7 separate regions of the Homo sapiens genome follow, and regions 2, 3, 4, 5, 6 and 7 are each linked to region 1. The links come from fine-mapping of genetic effects on gene expression. A gene starts in region 1. Each other region holds a variant in brackets. All regions are shown on one strand. Distances are from middle to middle.

What was found. PIP is the estimated chance that this variant, and not a neighbour inherited with it, causes the effect. A credible set is the group of variants that fine-mapping cannot tell apart.
Region 2: its variant is the best candidate, but not a certain one, in a credible set for the expression of MTHFS in whole blood (INTERVAL, PIP 0.84).
Region 3: its variant is the best candidate, but not a certain one, in a credible set for the expression of MTHFS in whole blood (INTERVAL, PIP 0.59).
Region 4: its variant is the best candidate, but not a certain one, in a credible set for the expression of MTHFS in tibial nerve (GTEx, PIP 0.74).
Region 5: its variant is the best candidate, but not a certain one, in a credible set for the expression of MTHFS in prefrontal cortex (BrainSeq, PIP 0.57).
Region 6: its variant is the best candidate, but not a certain one, in a credible set for the expression of MTHFS in whole blood (TOPMed, PIP 0.54).
Region 7: its variant is the best candidate, but not a certain one, in a credible set for the expression of MTHFS in tibial nerve (GTEx, PIP 0.54).

Annotation. Positions count from the first base shown.
Region 1 is chr15:79,895,165-79,899,490 of GRCh38, forward strand. It overlaps MTHFS (methenyltetrahydrofolate synthetase), which reads right to left and starts at 1,850. Exons shown (of 3, transcript NM_006441.4): 1 at 1,708-1,850. The coding sequence starts at 1,824. The region is part of intron 2 of ST20-MTHFS (ST20-MTHFS readthrough); the gene reads right to left. It overlaps ST20 (suppressor of tumorigenicity 20), which reads right to left. Exons shown (of 3, transcript NR_037653.2): 3 at 3,678-3,961. RefSeq lists a silencer at 1,859-2,158 and an enhancer at 2,299-2,348.
Region 2 is chr15:79,870,259-79,874,584 of GRCh38, forward strand. All of the region lies in intron 3 of ST20-MTHFS (ST20-MTHFS readthrough), which reads right to left. The region is part of intron 2 of MTHFS (methenyltetrahydrofolate synthetase); the gene reads right to left. Among named protein-coding and RNA genes, the nearest start is that of MTHFS, 25 kb to the right of the region's middle. RefSeq lists a silencer at 3,989-4,283. The variant A/G (reference allele first, on the strand shown) is at 1,661.
Region 3 is chr15:79,723,575-79,727,900 of GRCh38, forward strand. No RefSeq gene overlaps it. Among named protein-coding and RNA genes, the nearest start is that of TRC-GCA5-1, 19 kb to the right of the region's middle. The variant G/T (reference allele first, on the strand shown) is at 2,577.
Region 4 is chr15:79,937,439-79,941,764 of GRCh38, forward strand. No RefSeq gene overlaps it. Among named protein-coding and RNA genes, the nearest start is that of ST20, 16 kb to the left of the region's middle. The variant A/G (reference allele first, on the strand shown) is at 2,046.
Region 5 is chr15:79,748,686-79,753,011 of GRCh38, forward strand. It overlaps the pseudogene RPS12P25. Among named protein-coding and RNA genes, the nearest start is that of TRC-GCA5-1, 6.2 kb to the left of the region's middle. The variant T/C (reference allele first, on the strand shown) is at 2,352.
Region 6 is chr15:79,944,686-79,949,011 of GRCh38, forward strand. It overlaps the pseudogene FDPSP9. Among named protein-coding and RNA genes, the nearest start is that of ST20, 23 kb to the left of the region's middle. The variant T/A (reference allele first, on the strand shown) is at 2,006.
Region 7 is chr15:79,929,962-79,934,287 of GRCh38, forward strand. No RefSeq gene overlaps it. Among named protein-coding and RNA genes, the nearest start is that of ST20, 8.4 kb to the left of the region's middle. The variant A/G (reference allele first, on the strand shown) is at 2,712.

The sequences.
Region 1 (4,326 bases):
CAATGGCGCCAGATTCAGCCCAGATCTGTGCAGTTCCAAAGCCCATGCTAAACTGTATCCTGTCATCTCTTGCCTAAATATCCCTACTCACACTCCCCTATCCCATCTTTCCCTTCACCTGAAAGAATTCATCTTGTTCTCCGAAATTCATCTCAAACATTTTCCAATAGAAAGCTTTCCAATTTCCCCTCCCCAAGGCTATGTTTCCACAACATTGGTGTTTACCTTTATCATATATCTGGCTTCAATGCAATTCTTTATTCATGTCTGTTTCCTCTTCTAGGCTCTCTGCTCCTTTAGAGCAACAATCATATCTTTTTCATCTCCACAACCCAGTATATAGCCAAGTGTGCACTACATAGGTGTTCAACATATGTGAATGAATTAGCTAAATTTTAAACAACTAGATAGTAAGGACAAGAGTCTATATCCTTTACATCTACTAAAACACCCAGCAATGCTTCCTCATAATAGCTAAAATAATTCTGTTTGAACGAACGAATTAACATCTGTATAGATTCCCTCATACACACCTACATAGATGAAGAGAGGGGTGAAATGAGCATATATGCTTTACTGCTTTAACCCATAGGCACCTTGAATTTGAGTAAATAACGGATAATAGAATAGTGAAGGGTAATTAAGAAAGCCTGATGGTATAACTAATTCCAAGGAACATCAAGTTTCCAAATATCTGGTGTCTCTGAAGCATGATGCTGGGAAGACAGATCATCAGTTTGACTTACAACAGAATTACAAATACGTACTTATTCAGGGGACATTAAATTTTTCTTCCTCTGGTGTCTAACAAAAATGAGTCCCCAAAAACTCTTTAGAACATGCCTTCACAACAGGATATGACTGCCATTTTATTGATAAGAAAACTGACATTACATAGACTAAAAATACATAGCAGTGCAGTTGGTGAAAGTAATGAAACAGAGGTCTGCTAACCAACAAACACGGACCCTCACTTATTCCTCTCATTTCTCTCTTCTGTTTCCTACGTTCTTGGGAAGCCTGGATATGATAGCCAAGTCTTCCTTTCGTTCACTCAAGAAAAAGCATTTAATGTTGACCAACTCTGAGACAGGAAAAGCCTAGGCCCTGGAGCTACTGAGACACAGCCTTAGCCCTCCATATGCTTAGTGAAGTCCAGTCAACCTCTGAGTTCTGCCCTTTGGCATCTCCACACCTTTTTTGGTGTTCCCTCGTCTAAAGCACCTGCATCTTTCTCTGGCCATTTTACTAATATAACCGGAGTCTTACTCGTAGCTCATTAACTTTAGGCCTCACTGAGGGAACCTGGGCACTCAGGTGTTCACCCATCTCCTCTACCACAACTTTCTGTTCTCACCGTGCTCTCACCACAGCACCGTCATCCCCACGGAGGGTTTTCGAGCACCAAAAGAGCCACCCATGCAAACAAACTCCCCTCCCAGAGATAAATCTGTCAACCCCTGCCGTCCTCTCGCTCTTTAGCCCCACAACTTTCACTACCGGGCCCTCTCCCCGCCATAGTGCCAAGAGCGTCCAGACCACGACTAGGGGGCGTGCGCGCGCCGGGAGGGGAAACGTGCGCGCGCCGGGGGGTGGGGGGGCGCCTAGCCCAGCGCCAGCACGGACCATGCACAGATCAGCAATCGCTGGCCGCCAGGCCTTCGGAGGGTCTGTCCGCCGCGGCTTCCGCTACGGGCGGCCTCGCACCTTCTGGCTCAGTACGCGGGACTGGCGTAGCCGCTCCTCGGCACTCATCGCCCGCAGACGCTGCTTCAGCTCTCCCCGCAGGCTCCGCTTGGCGCTGCTCACCGCTGCCGCCGCCATCTCACGCCCAAGCCGAGTCCAGTCCCGCCCTCGGCGCCCTGGGCGCCCTCGGGTTCGGTCTCCGCCCCTGGCCGCTCCCAGGTGGATCCGCGGCCTAGGGGCGGGTCGGGGCTCGGGGAAGCGCCCCCACCCCGCTTCCGGGACGCGGGCCCGCGGCGCGCCGCGCGCTTACCTCGCCTCTGGCCCTTGGGACCCAGCCCTCGTGCGGTCCCCGTGGTCCGGCTCGCCCTCCCCGGTTAGGGGAGCGGTGGCGAGGCGCCGTCGCTGCCCTGCCGCCTGACCTCCCTGAGCCTGGGCCCTCACCGGGACCGCGGAGGCGGCAGCGCCACTGGCGGGGATGGTAAAGATGGCCGGCAGTACCCACGGTGCCTGGCATCTCTTGTACTGTTCAGTAGTGGGACTTCAGGGGCCAGAAAAGAAGGGCAAGGCAGGACATGTAGCGAAATCGTCACGAGTCGCTTAACTACAGGGATAGGTCTGACAGATGCCCCGATTTCCTTCTTGTGCAAACATCAGAGTGTAGTTACACAAAGTTACTACACACCTATGCTACACACCTGTACAGCGTATTTTGTACCGAATACTGTAGGCAATTGTAAGCACCGTGATACTTGTGTATCTAAACACAGAAAAGGTAATGTGTTGGTTGGCTACCACATCAGTAGGTATTAGGAATTTTTCAGCTCCATTATAATCTTAAGGGACCACAGTGGTTGATGGAAATGTCCTTATGTGATGAATGTATAGATGATACATAATCGGGAACACTGCTAAAGCAATAACTGTAGTGTAAAAGCCAAATTTTGCGGGTTTCTAGTGTGAATGTATTCCAGGTAATAGTGCCCACATAGGTACTTCCTGTTATAACCATCAGTGACTGTTCATTCCCACCACTCAGCTCTGATTAAAACACAAAAATGAATTAAAACTAAAAGCAGTTGGGGGGTGGGTGAGGCACTTGCAGGAAGAGGTAAAAGAAACTGTTAAGTCTTAAACTGCTCCCAGTAGACAGGCGCCTCAGATGGCATAGACGGTTGCCTCTCAGATGTGACTTCCTAAGAAAACCAGAGCTGTCTCTGCCAAAAATACGTCCCTACTGACCGCCCCAGTGTCTTAATCCCCACCGTTAAGAATCACACCTCCTAGGTAAAGCATTAATTAAGTGCCCGGTGAGAATGCACATGGCTTGAGAGGGGAGTTCTGGCTTCTTTATGGAATCTATCAACAGCTTCCAGGGAAAGCTAATGCAAGTCCCAGGGGGACTGTGTTGTAAGAAAAAGGGAAGGCCAGGCAGGTACAGCGTATACATAGTGCAATTAGATTTGCTGACCTAAAAGTTAGAACACGAGGTCTAACAAACTACGTACTTTTCTAATCTGTTCATTTTTACCAAAAAATAAAAATTAAAATTAACACTAGCTCCACGTTGAATCATTTACCAATTTTCTTTGTTCAGAATATCCCAGAGTATCCTGCATATCAGGTTGCCATATCCATCAACCCCAAATGGCAAGCCAGAGAGAGAAGGCTGGGGAGGAGGCATCAATGGAAACTCTTAAGCAGCCAGGGGCACTGGAAACTGCAGAAAGCATGGGAAGGAAGGAGGGAAGAGGGAAGCCGACCTGAGTCTGCTTCTAGCCTGAGTCCGCTTCTCAGTCTAGTCTGCAGTCTAGCCTAGTGACACAGAAAAGGACTTTTGGGGTAATGGCACACCTTAAAAGTCTGCCTGGGGCAGAAAAGACACCGCCTTCCTGGTCATCATCCCATAATTAATTGCCTGGATCCTGTGTTGAGCTTTTACCCTTTGGCTGAATTTCCAGCCAGACTCCAAAACTGAAGACAAAAATGGCATATAGAGAAAAATACATACAATTTATTCATTAAATAGGGACAAAATTTCTGTAACTCTGGAAGGTCAAGTTACATCATCAAAGTTGTTTATTTAAAAGTAGAAGTATGTGTTGGCAATCGTTTTCGTAAGAGTCAGAAAAATTAGGCCGGTTTCACAATATGGAGTGTCCTTTCTGGTCAACAGTATTGCTTCAGGACAGAAGAGCATTTCACAGATCTTTCCTGTAACTTCTAGAAAAGTCATCCAGCCAGATTTAGGCTCAAGCTTCTTTACAAAGCCATTTTCCTATGAGAGAATAAATTTAACATTTTAAAAATCATTGGAGATTAAGTATGCTGGAATAAAAAGCAAAAATATTTTCATTTAAATAATGCAAATAATCTTCTATCCCTCTAAAGGAGCATTGTGTAACAGAAACACAGTGTGGCCTACATCTGTAATTTTAATTTTTGGTAGCCACATTTTAAAAAGTACAAAAATAGGAAAAATTAATTTTTAAGATATATTTAGTGATAATGATTTCTGTATGTAATCAATGTCAAATCACTAATGAGATAGTTTTTTTCATAACAAACCTTCAAAATCTCATGAGTATTTAGTACTTACAGCGTATCTTAATTCAGACTAGCCACATTTTACTACCATAGTGA
Region 2 (4,326 bases), 25 kb before region 1:
GTCTGTTGCCTGTTTTTGTAAATAGAGTTGTATTGGAACACTGTCTGTTTTGGTACCGTCTATGGTTTCTTTCATATTGCAGTGGCACAATCGAGCTGCTGTCAAAGATTCCATGGCCTGAAAAGCCTAAAATATTTACTATCTAGCACTTGACAGAAAATAATTGCCAAATCCTGGGCTAGAATTCTGGGTGGACAAAAGAAACAAAAACAAAAAACTGTGACCCTAGAATTCTATCCTATTCAAGAATTCACTGATGTGTACAAAGACAGCCTCAAAAATAAAAGCATTCTGAAAACATACCACTCACGGACCATGCTGAAAAAAACTACTTAAAGGAATATTCCATCTGACCAAGAAATTCATCAAAATACATAAATCAAGAATAAAGAAGATATGCTATAACAGTAGGAACAAGGAATCATGAACCCAGGAAAATTTACAGTTCAGTTTAAATGACTCTTCTCTATACTCTATAATATAGTAAGAAAATAATCGAATGTCAATGAAAAAAATTCTTTAAAGAATATACACATCTTTAAACTACTATTAATTTTAAACACCAGTTTATGTTGACAAAAGCTAGAAAGAAAAAGCACATTGGCCGGGCGTGGTGGCTCATGCTTGTATTCCCAGCACTTTGGGAGGCCAAAGCAGGCAGATCACCTGAACTGAGGAGGTCGAGACCAGCCTGGTCAACATGGTGAAAGCTGTCTCTACTAAAAATACAAAAAATTAGCTGGGCGTGGTGGCACATGACTGTAATCCCAGCTACTGGGGAGGCTGAAGCAGGAGAATTACTTGAACCTGGGAGGTGGAAGTTGCAGTGAGCCAAGATTGCTCCATTCGACTCCAGCCTAGGCAACAGAGTGAGACTCTGTCTCAAAAAAAAAGAAAAGAAAAGGCACATTTAATTTCTTGTCTTTCACAGGGGTAAGGTCAATAAATACTATATTTATAATGCTAGTGAGAATTTGAGGCTAAAAATATTTTAATGTAACCAATAGTAGAAATGAATGCATAATTATGAAGTACTAGAGGGAAAAAAGGACACAAAGAAAAGGAAATGACAAAAAAAATTGTCTCCCAAAAACATGATGACAAAGGTAACAGAAAGAAGGCCAGACACATGCATTATTCCCAAAAAAAGAGGACAGACTGAACAGCCTAACTAAAAGACTACCAGTTGGGTACAAATATCAAAAATTCAATCATAAGCTATTTACAGAGGGATGCCCCACAGAAAATTGATGAGGGGAGAATTCAAGACAAAGGGATTTTTTTTTTTTTTAGTGTTCAATTTCCACTTTATCTTCTTTCATTACCTCTTTTATAATTAACGATTCATTTGCAGTTTTGCTGAATAAAAAAATTATACAAATATTCTCAGACAAAAAAAATTAATGCCAAACTTAAAGGTGATTACTAGAAAAATAGTACTTTTAAGTACTACCAAGGAAACTCTGTATAATGTTTGAAGTGACAATTTGAAATGCTTAAACAAAAAGAAAAGAAGAAAATTAAATGCTGACTTCAAATGCTATTAAAATTAAAATTTTTTACATAGGCCGGGCACGGTGGCTAATGCCTGTAATCTCAGCACTTTGGGAGGCCGAGGCATGGATCACGAGGTCGGGAGATTGAAACCATCCTGGCCAAC[A/G]TGGTGAAACCCCATCTCTACCGAAAAAATACAAAAATTAGCCGGGCATGGTGGTGGCCACCTGTAATCCCAGCTACTAGGGGTGCTGAGGCAGGAGAATCGCTTGAACCCAGGAGGTGGAGGTTGCACTGAGCTGAGATAACACCACTGCACTCCAGCCTGGCGACAGAGCAAGACTCCGTCTCAAAAAAAAAAAAAAAAAAAAAAAAATTTAAGTATAGCTACTTTATTTCATTTTAATAGAATACACGAGGCCCAAACAGAAATCCTGCAGTTCAATCAAAATAAGTCTTCAAACTAATGAAGCTTTTTTATGCTATACTCTTTACAGAGATCATTAAGCACACTACAATGAAGAAATCCCATTTTCTCTGATCTAATTCTGTAACATTACCAGGTAACACTGTGGAGCCCTATGACCTTCTGGTCTTGTAGGGCTCAGGGATCATGGGTGTTTAAATAGGGAAATGTCATGTGAGTGATGCAGGACAGGTGAGCCCCAAAACTGGGGTTATGCCCAGGAGGGTTTTTGGCTTTGCCGGGAAAGAATTCAGGAGTGAGCCTTTGACTGAACAGTACTGCTCCTTGCAGAGTAGGGCTAGCGCTCAGGCAGTAGCCCAGAGTCAGCAAGGCAGGGGCTCCTGGCAACTGTATTTAACATTCAGGTAAACCCACATTTGGCTATATGTAAATTAAGGGGCAGGTCAATGCAAATTGAGGTTATTTAGAACTTTCTACAAAAGGATCGTAATTTCCAGGTTGTTGCCATGGAAAGGGGTAGTAACTTCCAGGTCATTGCCATGGCATTTGTAAATCGTCATGGTGCTGGTAGGAGTTTCTTATGCCAATGAGCAATGACAGCAGCCAGGGATCACTTTTGTCATCGTCTGCTGGTTTCTGCCGGTTTCTCCATTTTATCCTGTCTGGACCACATCCTGTTTTGGTCAGCAGTGTCGTGACCAAAAAGCAAGTCCTGCTGGTCTGTTACCTCATGAGAAAGGATGCCTTTTCACCATAGGGCTGTGCACTTCTGAAAGACCTTAGAGGCCCAGCCTAGCTGACCATTAGGGAGACCACAGGGCTTGCAAGTAGGACGCAGTCAACACCACAGGGCACTCAGTAAAACCTCCAGGAAACAGAGTGAGAACAGCAAAAGAGGAAGCTCAGGGCTTCAGGACCCTTCACCTTTCAGTCCCCATCCTTCTTTCTGTATCCCTATCTCAATCCCATTGTGACGCCTCCTGGTGCCAGGCTCCAGCTATAGATATATGATGTAGTGGTTTAGGGCTGGGGTCTTAACAGCCAAAGGGACCTGGGTCTTAATATTATTTCTGCCACTCATGAGTTGTGTGACCATCGATAAGGTACTTCATCTGAGCCTTTTTTCTGATCTATAAAATAGAGGAGCAGGATATTAATAGCACCCATGCCTCTGCAGGGTATGGAAAGAATCAAATGAAGCAATGCAAAATAATTGCTTAGCACAGTTTCTGGCAGGTAGTAAGTACTCAAGAAATTTGGACTGTTATTACATTATGCATCTCTCCCACATACCACATCCCTGAAAAATCAGAAATTTCCTCTCCTGAACATTCCCTTTTGCAATGATGGTAAGAAATCAGTGAAAATCCTCTCTGAAAAAAAAAATACTGTATATCAAACAAAATCATCCAAAGCCAGCCATTTCAGGGATTTGGAAGCTGACCAAAGACTGAGTAGGAACAGCAGAAGTCTCTGGTCCTCTTACCTGGTGAGGTTCCCAGGCCCCCAGCTCAGTCCTCAAGAATGGCAGTTTTACCAATATGGGGCTGGCTGGAAAAAACAGCAGCTCTGCTGCCAGAAGGGGCAGACTTAACTTGTGGTAGGGGGCTTTGTGAGCTAAACATAGGAATATTACAGGAAAAATTACAGCTTTACTTGCCAAGGTTGTAATCCCAGTTGGTGTAAGAGCATAATGGGAATGTAATGTGGCTATACTAAAATAAGAGGTCCATAGAAGGGCTGAGATAAACTCTTCCTACATACCTGGCTGACTAGAAACTATAGGGATATGCAGGGAAGATCTGAGAGAGCTTGGCAGAGAGTAACAGCCAAGGACAACTAGAGAAGTGCTAAAACTTGAATGCACTCTGCAACTCACAGACAGATCAATCAGTGGAGCTTCATGCATTCCAGTGTTTGAAAACAACTACTATCTAAATCACTGGCTCAGAATCACTTCTAGAATGGCAGAGTAGAAAACTAAAAATCTGCTCCTTAATAAAACCAGCAAGAACATTGGGAAAAATGGTCAAAATCAACTTTTCAAAACTCTAGAAATTAGTCAAAGGCTTACACCAATCTAAATGTTTATTCTCTGTAAGAACAGTGAGCTTTGTGCCTTTTCAACTTGCCCCATTCCCATCCCCCTCTCCCCAGCTTCATGGTAGACTTGAAAATCAACAGCCTTACAACTAAAATAGCTGTGACAACCACCAACAGCCTGGCAGCCAATGGAGGGGCAGAACAGGTTTGGAGCTCAACAAAAGCTCCATCCCAGAAAACTGTCACTAATTAATTTGTCTGGCAGTTCCCTGAAAAGGTGCATTGTCAGGTCTTATCTTTACTTGATCTGACTCATAGCTCTCTCCATGCAAAAAGCCCTAGCCCTAGGACATTTATTTTAA
Region 3 (4,326 bases), 170 kb before region 1:
GAGCTCCTCTCAAACTGCTCCTGCTGGCAGATACAGGAGCCAGCAGGAGAACCTGATGCAGGGTAGGCACACCTCAAAACCCGGACTTAGCCTGGGAGGGTTCTTGGCTTCACCTGGGAAGGAATTCAAGGGCAAGCCAGTGGTGTTAAACAGGAACTCTGATTGAAGCAGCAGTGTACAGCAGCAGCAGAGGTGCTGCCCCTTGCAGAGCAAGGCTACCCCATAGGCAGTGTGCTCAGGGTAGCAGGTCAGAGCCAGTTCTGCGGTCATGTTTATACCCATTTTTAATCATATGAAAATTAAGGGGCAAACTGCAGAAATTTCTAGAAAAACGGTGGTAACTTCTAGGTTATCAGTCATTGACATGGAAAAGGGTGGTAACTTCTGGGTATTGCCATGGCAATGGTAACCTGACATGGCACATTTGTGGGCATGTCTTATGGAAAGGTACGTCCACCCTGTCCTTGTTTTAGCTTGTCCTCAATTTGGTCCAGTGTCTGAGTGCTGCCTCTGGAGTCAAACCTATCCACGGTGATGCTACCTGGGCAAGGGCCTTACCTCCCAGTTCTGTTGTTTCATGTTGCCACAAAGCCATGTCTGAAGAAAACTACAAAGCAAAACATCTAGGCCTGTAGCTAACACAGATATATTAAAAAGCTGAAGCCTAGATTCAAAGAGCACTTAAAATTTTTCTGTGCAACAAGAAAGCTAGAAGTAGGTGGTTACTGACATCGATCCAGTAGATTTAGGGCTAACATCTCTGAGATTTTCTTGGCTTTTCCCTCATATTCCTCCCCCAAACTGCTGCAACTCCAGCCACCATATCTGCATTCCAAGCAAAAAGGAAAAGGCATATCAGCTGAATCTGTTCCTCAATGGACAAGAGAAATTTTCTTAAAGAGCAAAATGAAGGGTAGCCAAATTGACTGATGATGAGTCACCCCACTGCCAGAGAAGGGAATTGTTCCTTTTCCACTACAGCAGAACATGTGACCACAGCATGTTATTTCTCCTCTCTTTTTCTATAAGGGGAGACTTTATTGTGGTTATACAGTATAGGAGTTATCTGTTTCCTTCAAGTAGCAATGCAAAGCAGAGACTTAAGCAATGAAGACATTTAATTACCTCACATTGAGGGATGTCTGGAGGAAATGAGTTCCAGTTTTCGAAAGTAGTTCAAGGATATGATCAAGAGCAAAGCCCTTCCTACCTGTCTGCTCTGGCATTCTCAGTAGATTCGCTTTTTGTCTTTAGTTGTATAGGATTGATATGTAGTCTTAGGAGAGATATTCTCTCTCTGCTGGGGTTTCCATGCTGGCAAGATGTGAATCTGAGGCCTTTGGAGAAAACTTTCTTACCACATGGAAGACAGTTTCTGCAGGGCCAGGTCAGCAGTCAGGAAAAAGTCAAGACTCAAAAAGAGGAACTGTACCATGACAGCACCATCTGAGCTCCTACGTCCAAGCGGCCCAGAGTCCACCTCCACATGTCCCAGTTACTGTGCCCACAGCTCTCCCTTTTTATTCTTTCTTCTCCCATTTCTCTTTTTATGGGTGTGTGGGGGAGTTTAGAAATAGAGTGGTCCAGCAACGCCACTTTTGGATATATATCCAAAAGAATTGAAAGCAGGGTCTTGAAGAGACATTTGCACACCCATGTTCATAGCAGTACTATTCAAAATAGGCAAAAGAAAGAAGTAACCCAAGTGTCCATTGACAGATAAATGAATAAACAAAATGAGGTGTATACATATGATGGAATATTTTTCAGCCTTAAAAAGGAAGAACATTCTGATATGCGCTACAACATGGATGAATTTGAAGACATTATGCTAAGTGAAAGAAGCCATTTACAAAAGGACAAATATTGTAGGATTCCACCTACATGAGGTACCCAGAGTGGTCAAGTTTACAGAGGCAGAAAGAAGAATGGTGGTTGCCAGGGCTGGGATGAGGGGGAATGGGGAGCTGTTTAATGGGTACAGAGGTTCTGTTTTACAAGATGAAAACATACTGGAGAGGAGCTGCACAACAATGTGAAGGCACTCAACACCACTGAACTGCACACTTAAACCTGATTACGATGGTACATTTTATGTTACATGTATTTTGCCACAATTAAAAATTTTGAGACAAGAATTGAGTGGAGTTTTCGTCACATTCAACTAAAAGTGTCCTGACTTGAAGAAGAAGAGAAGGCGAAAAAGAATGAAGCATATTGTGGAGAAAGAAGAAAAAAAGATAATGAACTGAGCACCAGAGAACCCCAACTTTTAAGGAAAATCTGGGCAAAAAGTAACCATGTAGATGGCTGGGATGAAGCTTCCTAGAAGTGAAGGTGGATGGTGATGCCCCTTCATTTATGAGACCAGGAAAGGGTCGCAAGGAAGCGAGGGCTGAAGAGTTTCGGGTTGGAGGGATTAGTCAACAAATTCAAGTGACTTTCAAGAGGCCAAATAATATAAATAGTGAAAAGTGTCTATTGGATTGGACAGTTAGAAAGTTTTTCCAGGGGGTGGATTCAATAGAACCAATAGAGAATACTTTGATGTAGTGGGTTCAAGAGCAGATGAAAAG[G/T]GAAGAGACAGAAAGCATGCATAGCTTTTCTATCACTTAAAATTAATTACACGAGTATAGTTTCCAGGTGATTAATAGTGAGGCCAAAGTTAAGAAGTAGCTCCCATTATCCACCTTGGTGGGAAAGAGCAGAAAGGCTTGTCCTTGGCACAGTCCAGGTGCCCCGTCTAGTAGACTTCCTGCCAACAGCCTGCTTTGGAGACTCAGGCTGGCCTGCTCCCTGCCTCGGTCTCTTTTCTCTCTCAGATTCTTTGCAAAATGAGGGGTAGCCATGTTTAATATTTTACTACATGTGTCTTATCACTCTCTCTCTCTCAATCTCTCTCCTCCATATATGTGTGTATGTAAGTATATTTGTGTGTGCACATGTATGTGTATATATGTAGATAGCTTTCTCTGAACTACTTGTATTTCATGGCCATAACAATGTTTTAATTTGAAGTTTTATTTTAGACTCAGGGGATTCGTGTGCAGTTTTGTGACATGGGTATATTGTGTGATGCTGAGGTTTGGGGTAAGGATGATCCCGTCACTCAGGCAGTGAGTGCAATACCTAATAGTTTTTCAGCCCTTGCACACCTCCCTCCCTCCCTTTGGAGTCCCCAGTGTCTATCATTCCTGTCTTTGTGTCCATGTGTACCCCAACGTTTAGCTCCCACTTACAAGTGAGAACATGCGGTATTTGGTTTTCTGTTCTTGTGTTAATTCACTTAGGATAATGGCCTCCAACTCCATCCATGTTGCTGCAAAGGACATGATTTCATTCTTCTTTATGACTGCACAGTATTCCATGGTGTATATTTACCACATTTTCTTCATCCAGTCCACCATGGATGGGTACCTAGGTTGATTCTATTGCCAACAGTGCTGTGATGAACATACACAGTGAGTGCGAGTGCATTTTCATAGAAAAAATTATTTTCCTTTGTATATGTACTCAGTAATAACATTACTCGGTCAAAAGGTAGTCCTGTTTTAAGTTCGAGAAATCTCCAAACTACTTTCCACAATGGCTGAACTAATTTACATTCCCACCAGAAGTATATACATATTCCCTTTTCCCTGCAGCCTCGCCAGCGTTTGTTATTTTTTGACTTTTTAGTAATAGCCATTCTAACCGGTGTGAGATGGTATCTCATGTGGTTTCAGTTGGCATTTTTCTGATGACTAGTGATGCTGAGCATTTTTTCATATATTTGTTGGCTGTGTATATGTCTTCTTTTGAGAAGTGTCTGTTGATGTCCTTTGCCCACTTTTCAATAGCATCATTTATTTTTTTGTTTGTTAAATTGTTTAAGTTCCTTATAGATCCTGGATGTTAGATCTTTTTTGGATGCATAGCTTGTGACCATTTTCTCCCATTCCATAGAGTGCCTGTTTACTCTGTTGATATTTTCTTTTGCTGTGCAGAAGCTCTTTAATTTAATTAGGTCCCACTTGTCGATTTCTGATTTTGTTGCGATTGCCTTTGAGATCTCAGCCATAAATTCTTTGCCAAGGCCAATGTCCAGAATAGTATTTCCTAGATTTTCTTCTAGGATTCTTATAGTTTTAAGTCTTACATTTAAATCTTTGATCCATCTTGAGTTAATTTTTGTTTATGGTGAAAGGCAGTGGTTGTTTCATTCTTCTGCATATGACTAGCCAGTTATCCGAGCACCATTTATTAAACAGGGAATCCTTTCCTCATTGCTTATTTTTGTTGACTTTGTCAAAGATCAGATGGTTGTAGGTGTGCAGTTTTATTCCC
Region 4 (4,326 bases), 42 kb after region 1:
AGGTTGCACTGAGCCAACATCACGCCACTGCACTCCAGCCTGAGCGAGACTCTTTCCAAAAAAAAAAAAATGCTACAAAAATAACATTCTCATTCACCAGTCTCACTCAGTTGTTGGAGAAATTACTTAATTTTTTAAAAATTGTGAGGTAAGATGGTATAATTTGGAGTTTTTCCTCGTGTTTCCAATTTCTCAGAAATTTGGTTACACTGTATTTATAGTTTTAAGAATAAATTTCGGCCGGGCGCGGTGGCTCACGCCTGTAATCCCAGCACTTTGGGAGGCCGAGGCGGGTGGATCACGAGGTCAGGAGATTGAGACCATCCTGGCTAACACGGTGAAACCCCACCTCTACTAAAAATACAAAAAATTAGCTGGTTGTGGTGGTGGGCGCCTGTAGTCCCAGCTACTGGGGAGGCTGAGGCAGGAGAATGGCGTGAACCCGGGAGGCGGAGCTTGCAGTGAGCCCAGATCACACCACTGCACTCCAGCCTGGGTGACAGCGAGACTCCGTCTCAAAAAAAAAAAAAAAAAAAAAAAAAAAAAAAGAATAAATTTCATTCATTTGATTTAAATTTTATCATGAAATAGTTCAGTCATACACAAAGGCATAAGAAGTATAACAACAAAACAATCATGTACCCACTACAGCTCAAGAAATATCCCTTCCTCCAGGAGATAACTACTATCATAAATTTGTGTTTATCATTCTCACTCATTTATCTGTATGTACTTTTACCAACATATACACATTCTTATACAAATACAGTATTGTTTTGCATGATTTTAAATGGAATATGCACTGCATAAATATAATCCTGCTATGTACTCCTCTTAATACTTTAGTACTAACGTTGTAATTTTCACAATAACCATAAGATGTGGAAAATATTATCCCCACTTTACAGATAAGAAAATGAAGGCCAATCAAGGTTGGAGAATTGCCAAGGTCTTACTGTTAGGAAAGAACAGAAGCAGGTTTGAACCAAGTGAGCCTGACACCAGAACATCTGCATGACTATGCCACACTATTTCAAATGCTGTTATACTATCAGTATTCTTATGCCATCTTCTTTTTCCCTCAGCATTATGTTTTCAAGATTCACCATGTTGATACATGTAACCCTAATTCATTATTTTCACTGCTGTATGGTATACTGTTCAATAAATAGACCACAGGTAATTTGTTCATTCTTCTATTAATAGAAGACATAACCAACAATGTGGCAAGTGCATACTTGTACATGTCTCCTTGTGCATATGTGCAAGAGTTTCACTAGGGTATATGCCTACAGATACAATTTCTGGGTTACATAATATGTGCATCTTCAAATTAACAAGATATTCCCAAGTATTCTCCAAAATGGATATCATTTTACTTTCAGGAAATAAGTTTGTAAGAAATTCTGCTGTCCATAGTTACCATGTATAAAAAAGATACTACAATAAAAGAGAAGAAAACATCAAGAAAAATGACAAAAAATAGGAGCCAAAATAGAATAGCAAAGTCACCCAAGTCTGCCATTTATAAATTCTTCCTCTTAAGTGCATGCAACAGAGGTGAAACACAGCATTTCTCTACTCTCAATTTTCCTTGCCTTCTAAGCAATATTCAACTCTCAGACCTTCTCTGAAGAGTGTGGACATGAGAGTTTACTACAAATATTAAAATTTCTGAATTTGACATGAATCACGTTAAGGTGGATTTCCCTCACAATTCAGCATTTCATTTGATCCCTCTCCTCCTCAAGCATTGCCATCGGTTTCTTCCCTACCAGCTTGAAACTTCCTATTTAATTTCATTCAAAATGATGGAGTATGAAAGAGCTGAAATGCTCTGTTTCATATGGAGATGTAGATACAATATAGAGACATACCTATAGACCTCAAGTAAGTTTTCTCAGCAAAGACCCATGATAAAGTTGTAAGAAAACAACAAATTTGGCATGATATTTTAGTTCGATAATTTAGATGCATCCAACTAGTAACAAATCTAACTGCATTTTAAAATAAAAATTTAGCCCTAGTTCATGATTTTCACTACT[A/G]TATGTGTACTGTTCGATAAATAGACCATAGGTAATTTGTTCATTCTATTCAAGTGAAGGATGATGACAGCCTGAACTAGAGAATGTGATAGGTATGGAGAGGTGGTGACAGAGAGGAGGCAGAATGGCAGGATTTGTCAATCAGATATGAAGGGTGAGAAGAAAAGACAGAGGGAGGAAGGATGTTCCAAAGTGTCCAGACTGTGCGATTTAATTTCCTTCACCTCCCTGTCAAATGATAAGTTTGAATGCCAGCAGCACCAAAGCATCGTATGATTGAAGATCTTTTGTTTCCCTAGATGCATGATAAGGCAAGGCTAAAAGCCCCCAAGAAAATCAGAATGGCAAAATAGCCCCATCACATACTCATGTAGAAGGAGAGAACTCAGAAATGAATATTCTTTCTCAAGTGATGGCCTGATCTCCCTTTTCCATTTACCGCCTGATCTCCCTTTTCCATTTACCTCCTCCTTTTCATCATATTGCTTCTTACCCTGTCTTAAGGTACAATGTTTTGGGGTAAAAAGGGCACTCACCCTCATACGACAGTCAATGAAAGTGTAAATTACAGCAAGCTCTTTGGTTTTTGTTGTTGTTGTTGTTTTTGAGACAGAGTCTCACTCAGTCACCCATGCCAGATGGTGCAATGGCACCACCTTGACTCACTGCAACCTCCGCCTCCCAGGTTCCAGCGATTCTCCTGCCTCAGCCTCTTGAGTAGTTAGGACTACAGGTGCCCGCCACGATGCCTGGCTAATTATTTGTATTTTTAGTAGAGACAGGGTTTCACCACGTTGGCCAGGCTGGTCTTGAACTCCTGACCTCAAGTTCTCCGCCTCCTTGGCCTCCCAAAGTTCTGGGATTACAGGCATGAGCCACGCGCCTGGTCTACAGTAAGCTTTTTGAAAAACAATATGGCAGTATTCTCCAAGAGCTTAACTATATTCATAGATTTAGGTCAGATAATTCTAGCTCTGGTAATTTAACCTAAAAAAGTAATTATCTGGAAAAAATATTCATGTACATAAATGTTTATTTTGGAAATATTTATAACAGTAAAAAACTAAAAACAATCTCCATGTAAAAAATTTGTACCTTGTGAAATTAGACACATCTCTCTTTTCATTAATGTTTTAAAAGAATTTTTAAATGAAAGAATGGTTATATTATAATGTTAAGAAAAAAACGGCCAGGCGAGGTGGCTCACACCTGTAATCCCGACACTTTGGGAGGCCAAGGCAGGTGGATCACGAGGTCAGGAGATCGAGACCATCCTGGCTAACATGGTGAAACCCCATCTCTACTAAAATACAAAAAATTAGCCGAGCACGGTGGCACGCACCTGTAGTCCCAGCTACTCAGGAGGCTGAGGCAGGAGAATCGCTTGAACCCAGGAGGCGGAGGTTGCAGTGAGCCGAGATCACACCACTGCACCCAGCCTGGGTGACAGAGCACGACTCCGTCTCAAAAAAACAAAAAAAAAAGAAAAAAAGAAAAGAACAAGGCTGAGGTGGAGGATCACTTGAGGCCAGGAGTTCGAGACCAGCCTGGGCAACATAGCGAGCCTCTGTCTATACAAAAAATATTCAAAATATTATCCAGGCATGGTGGCTCATACCTATAGTACCAGCTACTCAGGAGGCTGAGGCAGGAGAACCCCCTGAGCCCAGAAGTTCAAAGAGGTTATAGTGAGCTATGATCGCACCACTGCACTCCAGCCTTGGTGACACAGCGAGACTCTGTCTCTTAAAAAGAAAGAAAGAAAGAAAAAGAAAAAACAGTATAAAAGTAAATATCTATTATAATGTCAAGTTTATTTTATAAAAGCATAGTAAAAACTGGAAAAAAATATATCAGGATTATGATATAGGTGATTTTTGTTTTCTTCATTTTATTTTTCTCAAATTTCTATAATGTAATTTCTTATATAATGAGAAGAAAGGGTGCTTTTTTCCAACCCTACCCCACATCCACCTGTTAGATCAATTCCGAGGTGTTAAAGCAAGATCGTTGACAAAGCAAAATAGTTAAAAGACAAGCACAGTTCCGCTGGGCGCAGTGGCTCACTCTTGTAATCCCAGCACTTTGGGAGGCCAAGGCAGGTGGATCAAGAGGTCAGGAATTTGAGACCAGCCTGACCAACATGGTGAAACCCCGTCTCTACTAAAAATACAAAAATTAGGTGGGCGTGGTGGCGCACACCTGTAACCCCAGCTACTCAGGAGGCTGAGGCAGGAGAATTGCTTGAACCCAGGAGGCGGAGGTTGCAGTGAGCCGAGAT
Region 5 (4,326 bases), 150 kb before region 1:
GGGGTGTTAAAGTCTCCCATTATTAATGTGTGGGAGTCTAAGTCTCTTTCTAGGTCACTCAGGACTTGCTTTATGAATCTGGGTGCTCCTGTATTGGGGGCATATATATTTAGGATAGTTAGCTCTTCTTGTTGAATTGATCCCTTTACCATTATGTAATGGCCTTCTTTATCTCTTTTGATCTTTGTTGGTTTAAAGTCTGTTTTATCAGAGACTAGGATTGCAACCCCCTGCCTTTTTTTGTTTTCCATTTGCTTGGTAGATCTTTCTCCATCCTTTTATTTTGAGCCTATGTGTGTCTCTGCATGTGAGATGGGTTTCCTGAATACAGCACACTGATGGGTCTTGACTCTTTATCCAATTTGCCAGTCTGTGTCTTTTAATTGGAGCATTTAGTCCATTTACATTTAAAGTTAATATTGTTATGTGTGAATTTGATCCTGTCATTATGATGTTAGCTGGTGATTTTGCTCGTTAGTTGATGCAGTTTCTTCCTAGTCTCGATGGTCTTTACATTTTGGCATGATTTTGCAGTGGCTGGTACCAGTTGTTCCTTTCCATGTTTAGTGCTTCCTTCAGGAGCTCTTTTCGGGCAGGCCTGGTGGTGACAAAATCTCTCAGCATTTGCTTGTCTGTAAAGTATTTTATTTCTCCTTCACTTATGAAGCTTAGTTTGGCTGGATATGAAATTCTGGGTTGAAAATTCTTTTCTTTAAGAATGTTGAATATTGGCCCCCACTCTCTTCTGGCTTGTAGAGTTTCTGCCAAGAGATCTGCTGTTAGTCTGATGGGCTTCCCTTTGAGGGTAACCTGACCTTTCTCTCTGGCTGCCCTTAACATTTTTTCCTTCATTTCAACTTTGGTGAATCTGACAATTATGTGTCTTGGAGTTGCTCTTCTTTAGGAGTATCTTTGTGGCGTTCTCTGTATTTCCTGAATCTGAATGTTGGCCTGCCTTGCTAGATTGGGGAAGTTCTCCTGGATAATATCCTGCAGTGTTTTCCAACTTGGTTCCATTCTCCCCGTCACTTTCAGGTACACCAATCAGATGTAGATTTGGTCTTTTCACATAGTCCCATATTTCTTGGAGGCTTTGCTCATTTCTTTTTATTCGTTTTTCTCTAAACTTCCCTTCTCACTTCATTTCATTCATTTCATCTTCCATCGCTGAAACCCTTTCTTCCAGTTGATCGCATCATCTCCTGAGGCTTCTGCATTCTTCACGTAGTTCTCGAGCCTTGGTTTTCAGCTCCATCAGCTCCTTTAAGCACTTCTCTGTATTGGTTATTCTAGTTATACATTCTTCTAAACTTTTTTCAAAGTTTTCAACTTCTTTGCCTTTGGTTTGAATGTCCTCCCGTAGCTCAGAGTAATTTGATCATCTGAAGCCTTCTTCTCTCAGCTCGTCAAAGTCATTCTCCATCCAGCTTTGTTCCGTTGCTGGTGAGGAACTGCGTTCCTTTGGAGGAGGAGAGGTGCTCTGCTTTTTAGAGTTTCCAGTTTTTCTGCTCTGTTTTATCCCCATCTTTGTGGTTTTATCTACTTTTGGTCTTTGATGATGGTGATGTACAGATGGGTTTTTGGTGTGGATGTCCTTTCTGTTGGTTAGTTTTCCTTCTAACACACAGGACCCTCAGCTGCAGGTCTGTTGGAGTACCCTGCCATGTGAGGTGTCAGTCTGCCCCTGCTGGGGGGTGCCTCCCAGCTAGGCTGCTCGGGGGTCAGAGGTCAGGGACCCACTTGAGGAGGCAGTCTGCCCGTTCTCAGACCTCCAGCTGCGTGCTGGGAGAACCACTGCTCTCCCAGCTGTCAGACAGGGACATTTAAGTCTGCAGAGGTTACTGCTGTCTTTTTGTTTGTCTGTGCCCTGCCCCCAGAGGTGGAGCCTACAGAGGCAGGCAGGCCTCCTTGAGCTGTGGTGGGCTCCACCCAGTTCGAGCTTCCCGGCTGCTTTGTCTACCTAAGCAAGCCTGGGCAATGGCGGGCGCCCCTCCCCCAGCCTCGCTGCCACCTTGCAGTTTGATCTCAGACTGCTGCACTAGCAATCAGTGAGACACCGTGGGCGTAGGACCCTCCGAGCCAGGTGCGGGATATAATCTCCTGGTGCGCCGTTTTTTAAGCCCGTCAGAAAAGCGCAGTATTCGGGTGGGAGTGACCCGATTTTCCAGGTGTCATCTGTCACCCCTTTCTTTGACTAGGAAAGGGAACTCCCTGACCCCTTGTGCTTCCCAAGTGAGGCAATGCCTCGCCCTGCTTCGGCTCGCGCACGGTGCGCACACCCACTGACCTGCGCCCACTGTCTGGCACTCCCTAGTGAGATGAACCTGATACCTCAGATGGAAATGCAGAAA[T/C]CACCCGTTTTCTGCGTCGCTCACACTGGGAGCTGCAGACCAGAGCTCTTCCTATTCGGCCAACTTGGCTCCTCCCCGAGAAAACTTTCAACTTGCTCTTGGGCTGAAATTGTTCCTCCCACATTCCAGCTGACCACTAGGACAAAAAGTCACTTTAGGATCTCCTTTGTCTTCAATTAAGATCAAGTCCCTGAGGAGATTCTAAATCTATAAGTCTGAGAGCTGTGAAGACAATTTGACAATTGGGTGTGTGTCGGAGTACAGATAAAAATGTTCCTTCAACATGTATTTTTGAAAACTTAGTACATGCAAAACTCCATTGAATTAAAACATGAAAGAAGGGCCGTGCGCAGTGGCTCACACCTATAATCCCAGGACTTTGGGATGCCGAGGCAGGCAGATCACCTGAGGTCAGGAGTTCAAGATCAGCCTGAGCCACATGGTGAAACTCTGTCTCTACTAAAAATACAAAAATACAAAAATTAGCCGGGCATGGTGGTGTGTGCCTGTAATCCCAGCTACTTGGGAGGCTGAGGCAGGAGAATTGCTTGAACCCAGGAGGTGGAGTCTGCAGTGAGCCAAGATCATGCCACTGCCCCACTCCAGCCTAGTGACAGAGAGAGACTGTCTCAAAACAAAAAACAACAACAAAAAAACTCTTTGATGACATCCTTTGCCATAGTCCTTAACGCTACACAACTGCAGCCAACCACTTTATGGGGTTTTCCTTCTGTCAGTTTTACAGTGGTCCATCCCTTCCCCTAGTTTATTGTCATCAACCTTAATTAGGGTGATCTGGTGCTCAGCAACAAGGGCCTTCACCAGCCAGCCACATAGGCAGGCTCATTACAGTTGGGGGCAGCACAAGGATGGGCCCAGCACTTGTCTAAGGCTTTGGCAGCTTCTCGAATTCCACGTGCTAGGCCATCATGGATGAGGGCAGCCTTCAGGACCTCTTGTAAAGCAGTATTAAGGTCCATGACACCTCCAGCACTGATGCCTTCCTGGGCCATGGCGGTGGGTTATGGGTGAAGCTGATTCTTGAACACACCTGAGCCTCTGCCTCCGTGACTCAGTGGCGGTGGGGAAAGAGCAGCAGTTTGTCCTTGGTTAACACTCACTGCACCTAAAATGTGGTCTAGGTTGCATGAAAAGGGGTTAAACTTGGCCAAGAAGTTGATTAAGCATTTTGGCCAGTTTGCTTATTACCATTGATGTAAAAAAGATTAATATGTTACAGTCTCTGAGCATTTCTCTTCCGTTTTTTTAGACAAGGTCTCACTCTGTTGCCCAGGCTAAAGTACAGCAGGAGTGATCTTGGCTCACTGCAGCTGCAACCTTGACCTCCCAGGCTCAAGCAATCCTCCCATCTCAGCCTCCTGAGCAGCTGGGATTACAGGCGTGTGCCACCACACCTGGCTGATTTTTGAGGTTTTGGGGTTTTTTTGTAGAGACAGGATTTTGCCATGTTGCTCAGGCTGGTCTAGAACTCCTGGCCTCAAGCCATCAACTCGCCTTGGCCTCCCAAAGCACTGGGATTATAGGTGTGAGCCACTGTGCATGGCCTTGAAGGAGTTTCCATTTTGCCCTACTCCCCAGGTGACAATGAAAAGTAGCAAATGAGCAGGTGATTTTGACAGCAGCACTGAGCTGTCATAGACACCTTGCTAACTAGCTCAGTGTTTGCTTACTTATAGCTTTCTAGAGATAAAAATGAATGGCACACACTGGTTATCAAAAATGCCCATAAATACTGGCCAGGCGTGGTAGCTCACGCCTGTAATCCCAACACTTTGGGAGGCCAAGGCGGGCAGATCACTTGAGGTCAGGAGTTCAAGACCAACCTGGCTAACATGGTGAAACCCCGTCTCTACTGAAAATACAAAAATTAGCCAGGCATGGCAGTGTATGTCTATAATCCCAGCTACTCAGGAGGCTGAGGCAGGAGAATCCCTTGAGCCCTGGAGGCAGAGGT
Region 6 (4,326 bases), 50 kb after region 1:
AGGCAAGTATCACCGGGGTTTGACGGTGCTAGTAGCGTTCCAGGAGCTGGTGGAACCAAGGAAACAGGATGCTGATAGTCTCCAGAGGGCCTGACTGTGGGCTGGTGTATGGAACTGCTGCAAGCTTTCTTCCTGGTGACAGATGACATCATGGATTCATCCCTCACCCGCTGGGGACAGATCTGCTGTTATCAGAAGATGGGCATGGGGTAGGATGCCATCAATTATGCTATCCTTCTGGAAGCATGTATCTACTACCTGCTGAAGCTCTATTGCCAAGCACAGCCCTATTACCTGAACCTGATCGAGCTCTTCCTGCAGATTTCCTGTCAGCCTGAGATTGGGCAGACCCTGGACCTCATCACAGCCCCTAGGACAATGTGGATTTTGGCAGATTCACTGAAAACAGGTACAAATCTATTGTCAAGTACAAGATAGCTTTCTACTCTTTCTACCTTCCTGTAGCTGCAGCCATGTACATGGTAGGAATCGATGGTGAGAAGCAGCACGCCAATGCTTAGAAGATCCTACTGGAGATCGAGAGTTTTTTCAAATTCAGGATGGTTACCTTGACCTCTTTGGGGACCCCACTGTGACCCGCAAAGTTGGCACTGACATCCAGGACAACAAATGCAGCTGGCTGGTGGTTCAGTGTCTGCAACGATCCACTCTGGAACAGTACCAGATCCTGAAGGAAAATTACGGACAGAAGAAGGCCAAGAAGGTAGTCCAGGTGAAGGCACTGTATGAGGAGCTGGATCTGCCGGCCGTGTTCTTGCAGTATGAGGAAGACGGTTACAGCCACATTATGGGTCTCACTGAACAGTACGCAGCGCCCCTGCTCCCAGCCATGTTTCTGGGGCTTGTGTACAAAATCTACAAGCAGAAAAAGTGACCTAGAGACTGCAAGGACTCGGGAGAGGAGGCACTCAATAAATATTGTGTAAAAAAAACAAAAACAAAAACAAAAACAAAAAAAAAGATACAAAATATATAGAAATATCTTTATTTACATTTTTTTCTATATTTTATTAACTGGCTCTGTTTGTGAGAGGACCTGGAAGCAATAACACACCAGTAGCAATGAAATCTAACATCAAGATCTTGGTTTCTTAATATCATTTTCCAATTTAAAAAAAAAAAAAGAGCTTCTTGGAGAAATGGCTGATTCTAGAGTTGGGGCAGTGAAAATCAGAGCCGAGACTGGAGTATCTTGTGGTGCCACAAAGCAAGGACATGCTCTGAAAGGAAGGGAGCATGACAAGAGGGAGCCAGGAGCTGAATCAGGGTTCCCAATGGCTAATGCTTGGACAATCTGAGCAACAAAATAATGATAATCTTACATCATAACCCATAAAATAAATATCCATAGTGCACACTGATATGAATAAATAACTAGGAGAGAAGAGATATGCTTCCTTATCACATAATTCCAGTTAATAAATGTGGAAGGAATAATGGAAATGGAAAATCACCATTAAGCAAACATTGCAGTTATAATTGTTGCAGATGAAAACTGTTGATGGATGCTAAGCTTAGTGGGTGGAAGAATGATGAGAAACATCATAATCACAAAAACACCATAATCTTAAAAATATATCCCCACAAGAAACTTAATAGTGGAGAAACCTAGCAGACACCACCTTAACTGAGTAGTCAATGTTAGCATTACTAATAAGATGACATATGTTCCCCCCAGTATGATGCACTGGAAAGGACACAGCTTTCTGTTGTATTCCTGCCAGAAATGTATAACCTCAATCTAATCATGAAAAACCATCAAACCCAAATTGAGGGACATTCTATAAAATGCCAGACTAGTAATCTTCAGAAGTCCCAAAGTCATGAAAGACAAAGACTGAGGAATTGTCACAGCTTTAAGGAGACATGACAACTAAACTGCACGATCTGTTTTAGATTTTGGACCGGAAAAGGACACTAGTGAGAAAACTGGGGAATACCAGTAAGATTTGTAGATTGGTTAATCATACTGTATCAATGTTAA[T/A]GTCCTTCTTTGGATAGTCATACTATAACTATATAAGATGTTAATGTTGGTGGCAGCTAGATGAAGTGTACTATTTTTGCAACTTTTCTGTAAAACTAAAATTAGTGCAAAATAAAAGTTCAAAAAATTTTTTAACTGTTAAATAAACATTGTGAAAGCATGTGATAGGAGAGACCATCATATGAAAAACATGGAAATTTTGGTTGACCCTATGTGTTAAGTCAAAAAACATGTAGCTGGGCACAGTGTCTCATGCCAGTAATCCCAAAGCTTTTGCAGGCTGAGAGGGGAGGATCACTTGAGCTCAAGAGTTCACGACTGGCCTGGACAACAAAGCAAGATCTCCATATCTACAAAAAAAATTTAACATTAGCCAGTTGTGGTGGCATACACCTGTGATCCCAGCTACTTGGGAGGCTGAGGCAGGAGGACCACTTGAACCCAGGAGGTTGAGGCTGCAGTGAGCACCACTGCACTCCAGTCTGAGTGACAGGCATTTTATTCACTAGAACTCCTCCTAGGAAAGTACCATGTGTATGACTTCTTTTTTTAAGAAGTACTTCTGGAAGACACTTGGGGTAGAGAGCTAGAAGCCAAAATGATAAAAACATGATCCCTCAACTGCTGTACATAAGATGACTACAGGACTTAAAGTTGCTTCCCAAAGGGAAGAGTAGAGGGAAATCACTCAAATACAAAGAAAAGATTGTGGGGATAAGAAGGCTAGTTTCTCCTGCATTGGAGGGAGAGGAGAGAAGGGGAAAGTCCCTGGAAACAACACAGCCAGGAAGAAAAATTTGAAGAATAAAAATGTCTAAGAGGAATTTTTTTTCAGTTATATTTTATGTGGCCTCTCACCTCTCTCCCCGACAAAATATTCAGTGGTCCTTATTGCACAGTCGTGTGAGTGGATTCTTGTGGGTAAACATAAGGCTGATTAGTATGGGAAAAATTTAAAAACTGGAGGATGAGGCCAGGCATGGTGGCTCACACCTGTAATCCCAGCATTTTGGGAGGCCGCCGCAGGCAGATCACGAGGTCAGGAGATTGAGACCATCCTGGCTAACATGGTGAAACCCCGTCTCTACTAAAAACACAAAAAATTAGCCAGGCATGGTGGTGGGCGCCTGTAGTCCCAGCTACTTGGGAGGCTGAGGCAGAAGAATGGCGTGAACCCGGCAGGCGGAGCTTGCAGTGAGCCGAGATCATGCCACTGCACTCCAGCCTGGGCAACAGAGCGAGAATCTGTCTAAAAAAAAACAAACAAACAAACAAAAAAAACACTGGAGGATGAGAGGAGAATGGGCATCTGGACTACAATAAGGCCAGTGATAATAGGTACCATTTCTGAGTTTACTAAATGCCAGGTGCCAAGTTAAATTTCTTATGTTCCTCAAAATGAACCACAAAGTACTTATTATTACAGTATTTTTATAGAAGAGGAAACAGGTTTGGAAATCCTGTGTCTTGCCCTAGCTCACGTACGTACTACATAAAGGTTATCAGATTCTAACCCAGGATCTCCAAAACTGACACTAAAATGCACCTCCTCCTCTGTCACAGCACTGTTTTATTAGCTCTGTAGCTCTGTTCTTGTTCATCCTGTGAAGTATGAGACCGGCCCATGTTCTGTAGTCACCTGTATCTTCACTGCTCAGCACCAGGCCTGGTGTGGAACGGATGCTCGGCAGATAGCTGCTGAGTCAGTGAGGGAAGGCTGTGTCATGCGACAATGAGGTGGGAAGAGCAACTTATTAAGCTAATAAAATCCCCAGCTGCTGTTGGAAGTCCAGGTCAAGAGAAGAAACCCCATTGTACTCTTTGCTGACGGAGCTATAGCTGAAGCGCTGCACCACACTTTAAGGGTGGTATGGAAAGCTAGTTTTCAGAAGGGGCTGACTTCCTCAGCTCGGGGTGGTAGGTAGTCATTGTAGAAATTTAAAAGAAAAGCCACAGTGTCACCAGGGAAAACCCAATAACCAAGTGCCATGCGGTCTCACTGGTTGTGTTTGGGAAGTACTACCACTAATCAATGTATAAACCAAGTGCCAATTTGCAGGAAGAAATAAAATTATCATGCAAACGATAATACAGTCAGCCTGCACAGAGCATTCTCTCCATTTAGATAGATCAGGAGGTTGCTGGTGACCCCTCCTTCCCCCGTTCCACCATCACCCCCACCCCCACTCCAAGGAAATGACTTTTCAGCTGAAATCACAAGGCTAAGTATGCATTCTTTAGGTGAGAGAGTGAGAACAGGGAAGAGAGAAAAACTGGAAAATTTTTCATGAAGAAACAACTGTATATACAAAGTTTCTAAA
Region 7 (4,326 bases), 35 kb after region 1:
TCGCCCAGGCTGCAGTGCAATGGCACAATCTCGGCTCACTGCAACCTCCACCTCCTGGGTTCAAGCGATTCTCCTGCCTCAGCATCCATAGTAACTGAGATAACAGGTGCCCACCACCACACCTGAGTAATTTTTGTATTTTTAATAGAGACAGAGTTTCACCATGTTGGCCAGGCTAGTCTCAAACTCCTGATCTCAGGTGATCTGCCTGCCTCGGATTCCCAAAGTGTTGGGATTACAGGAGTGAGCCACTGCGCCCAGCCGAATGTTTGACTCTTTTTTTTTTTTTTTTTTTTTTTTTGAGAAGGAGTCTCGCTCGCTTTGTCGCTCCGGCTGGAGTGCAGTGGTGCAGTCTCAGCTCACTGCAATCTCCGCTTCCCGGGTTCAAGTGATTCTCCTGCAGCTGGGATTACAGGCGCCCGCCACCATACCTGGCTAATTTTTGTGTTTTTAGTAGAGACAGGGTTTCACCATCTTGGCCAGGCTGGTCTTGAACTCCTGACCTCGTGATCCACCCACCTTGGCCTCCCAAAGTCTGGGATTACAGGCGTGAGCCACCACACCCGGCCGGTTGACTTTTACAATTATATTTTTCCCTTCCAAAAGAGCAACATGTCATACTATATATGTCGTCCTTAAAACTAGGTCACTCTCCACCTCCTGAGAGCCAACAGCCCTTAGGAGTTGCTGAGGAGAGAGTATGAGGACAAGAATATTTCCTTTCTATCCTTAACCTTGCCAGGATCTTCCTCTTTCTGGTGAACTATGATACCCTGTCCTCTCTGGTGACTCAGAAGCGTTAGAGCATTTTTTTTAAGTCACTGTAAATGTGACTGTTGTATAGATACAAGAACTGTTATATAGATACAGAGCTAGTAGGTGTCTAAAGTATGCATCGCAGTTAGCCCAACTAGCTTTTCAGGGGTTGTCTTTTATGATAGCCTTGCTTTCTTACTGGAAGAGGGACTGTCTTCTTTTCTAAGCAGGTGTGGCCATTTTCATAACTTGCTCCTACATGCATGTTAGCGCTTAGCAAAATTCCTGACAAAGTGGAAAATATTACAAGCCACTAAAAGCATTTAGAATGAAAAACTGTTACTCAATGGCTTAAAGATATTTAGCCATTCTAAAATCCTAAATCAAAGTGTGTGTGTGTGTCTGTCTGAGCACATGCTAAAAAGTAATTTAGAAATTACTAGACATAGAAATATTTGCATTTCCTTAGAAAATGCTCACTCCTTTGACAAAACCTTTGCTATCCAATCCATCCATTTTTTAAAATAACAGATCATTTCACTAGACGGTCTGTTCATTTAATCTTCATGGGTACAGATGGTCAGGTATTTTCTATTTATCCTCTTTCATTTATTCCTTACCAGCATCCTTCCTCCAGATGTGCCTCCCTCTGGTCTATCAAAGGGCCTCTTCTTCACTGTCTTGGCACAATGCAATTTTACAAAGGAATCCCAGGAACCTTAAAGGTTAGGTATATAAGAATTGAAAGCTTGGTGGCAAAAAGAAAGGGGAGTTTCTTAGGGGGATTCTGTCTAGACGGTGGTCCCCTACCACACTGTTGGGGGGCATATATTATATAGATGTAGGGGTGGGTAAGTCTGTGATCAGAGCAGAGGGTGAACAGGTTCTTGAACTGTTAGGAAGCTGCTGTCTTACCCAAAGTGAAACAAATACCTTGTCTTTCACCATTTTTCTGGCAGGAGATGGAAAAATAAGATTCTTAAATAACATCTACTATTTCTTTTTTTTTTCTTTAGTATATCAGTAGGACAGTGAAGTTGGAAAAGTGGAATATGAACCACTTCTGAATGTCTTTGATGTTTTAGAGAAAGTACTATTCGAAGATGGAAGAAAACATACTAGAAATAATCCAAATCTCCAAGTCAATAAAATAAGTCTCAATAATCTGCCCTAGGATTTAAAATATATTATTCTGAGTATTGACTTGGAGATGCAATGGAGAGAGTAGATTATAAATAGAAACTTGTATCAAGCAAAAGTAAATTAAGCTGCCATTAAGATACTTATATAATTAGCCTTCTAAGAAGTTGAGCGAATTCTATTTCTGAGTCTTTGGGCACCCCTGGAGTATTACACAGACAAGGACATCATCAACTATTCAATTTGACCAAGTATGTCTACAAAGTTACTTTCTGTCCATCATCCTTCTTATGTAGACAAAGTTATATGTGCCCTGGAAGTTTAATTCTGTAAATATCCAGGTCTCCAAACTGGCCCAGTAATAATAGTAACAGCTATTGACCACTTTTATGACACGTAATAATTCATTTAAAACTCACCATAGTCTTTAGAGGTAGCTGCTGTTACCATCATCATCTCCATTTTACAAATGAAGAAACTGAAACACAGAGAGGTTAAATAATTTCCAGTCCCATAGCCAGAAGGTAGTGGAGCTGAATTTGAACCCAGCTGATCTGACTTCAGAATTGCGCTCACAATCTTCTTTGGCCCATGAACATGATGAGTTCTCCATTCTTCTACTTAAGAAAGTATTAATACCTAGTTAGCCACCCTCTGGGGTAGGGATTGAGGAACAATGTTGAGAACTTAAGGGTCATTGCCTTTGTGATACCCAACAACTCAATCTTCTTCCTCTAAGAGCAAGTTTGCCAGTTTTGATGTCTCAGCACCTCTGGAATCCGCACTGAAGGAATCAGTTCCTTAGAGAGGAAGGC[A/G]GTTCCTGGATCTCTTGTTCGAAAGTTGGCTGTGTATTTGGGCAGTACTCCAGCTACTGGAGAGATAGGTAGGAAAGCCGGGAGACCCATCAGTCAGCAGTTTGCTAAAGTGAAGTTTCAGTGTCCAGGCACAGTGGCTCACGCCTGTAATCCCAGAATTTTGGGAGGCCGAGGCGGGCAGATTATTTGAGGTCAAGAGTTCAAGACCAGTCTGACCAATATGTTGAAACCCCATCTCTACTGAAAATACAAAAAAATGAGCCAGGCGTGGTGGTGCATGCCTGTAGTCCCAGCTACTTGGGAAGCTGAGGCAGGAAAATTGCTTGAACCCAGGGGGTGGAGGTTGTAGTGAGCCTAGATTCCGCTACTGCATTCCAGCCTGGGCGACAGAGTGAGACTCCGTCTCAAAATAAAAATAAAAATAAAGCTTCAGCATCTGAGCTTCTCGTTGCAAAGGTTAGTGAACTAGCCCAGCCTGTAGGAGTTTTTGGGAGCAGAAGTTAGCGGAAGGAGTCTTTTACCCAGGGTAGTAGTACCACCACAATCAACAAAGCAAGAAGATTTGAGAGTCAGAATTTACTGGCAACAGTCCTGGGCCTATACATCAGAGAAGAAAAATTTGAACGGGTCCTGAAATAAGATTAGAAGCAGATCTGAAAAGCCAAAGTAAAGAGCCAGGGAAACAAATGAAAGCCAGGCGCACTGGGTTCAATGCTAGATGACAGGGTGATTCTTTGTGAATGCCAAAAGGAAGTGGTTGCAGGCAGTTGCAACCTTTGTTTCCATGCCCTTTGTAGCAGGGCATTTGGAAGAAACAGTTGCATTTAAGGGTTAGGGATTCTGTGCCTTGGCAGGGTTGTGAGTTTCCAGCATTGAGACCAGTTGGTAACCAGATCTGCTCGACTAGAGCCCAATCTGCAAAGCTCCCTAATGCAGAAGGGAGCTTTACCATTGTGTAAACAGATTCTATCTTCCCATGGTTCCTAGAAACCAGATAGCCTTCATCGCACATCTTCACTCTATTCTAGAGAAATGAGGGCAAGGTGTTGGGCAGGGCAGGTTAGAGACGAATAGTCGGGTATGGCACAGGTGGCTCCCTGTTATCAGTGGGTATGGTTTACCTCACATGGGGCACCTACAAACGAAGTAGTGGCCAACAGAGCTGCTTTGTCTGTGGGCATGTTTGTCTACCTGCATTATTAGAGGACTTGTTTCCTCTTCCCTACCACAACAATCCTCCCAAATTGTTTGAGCTTTTTCTACTGCCTATTTTTGCAGCCGATGTCAGTTGATCAAGAGGTATGGCCTGGTATTTAGTCCACCTTGAGTCAGATGCAGGTATCAGTTAGCAACTCTGCTTACTAAGTACTTGAATATTGGGTTCAAATCATGTTATAGTATCATTTATAGACAACTCATGAGCAAACCACCAAAATTCTGCTGTGCAATAACAGCAGGGCAGATCATGGTATTAAATGTATTTATCCTGGCAGGGAGAAGGTATGTGTATACTGTAGGACAGCTGGAGTGTGTGTATTGCTTTCAAAGGTGGGATTGCAGGCTACATGAGAGAAAATGAATTTCCCCAACCTCTCCAACGGCCAAGATAAAAGAC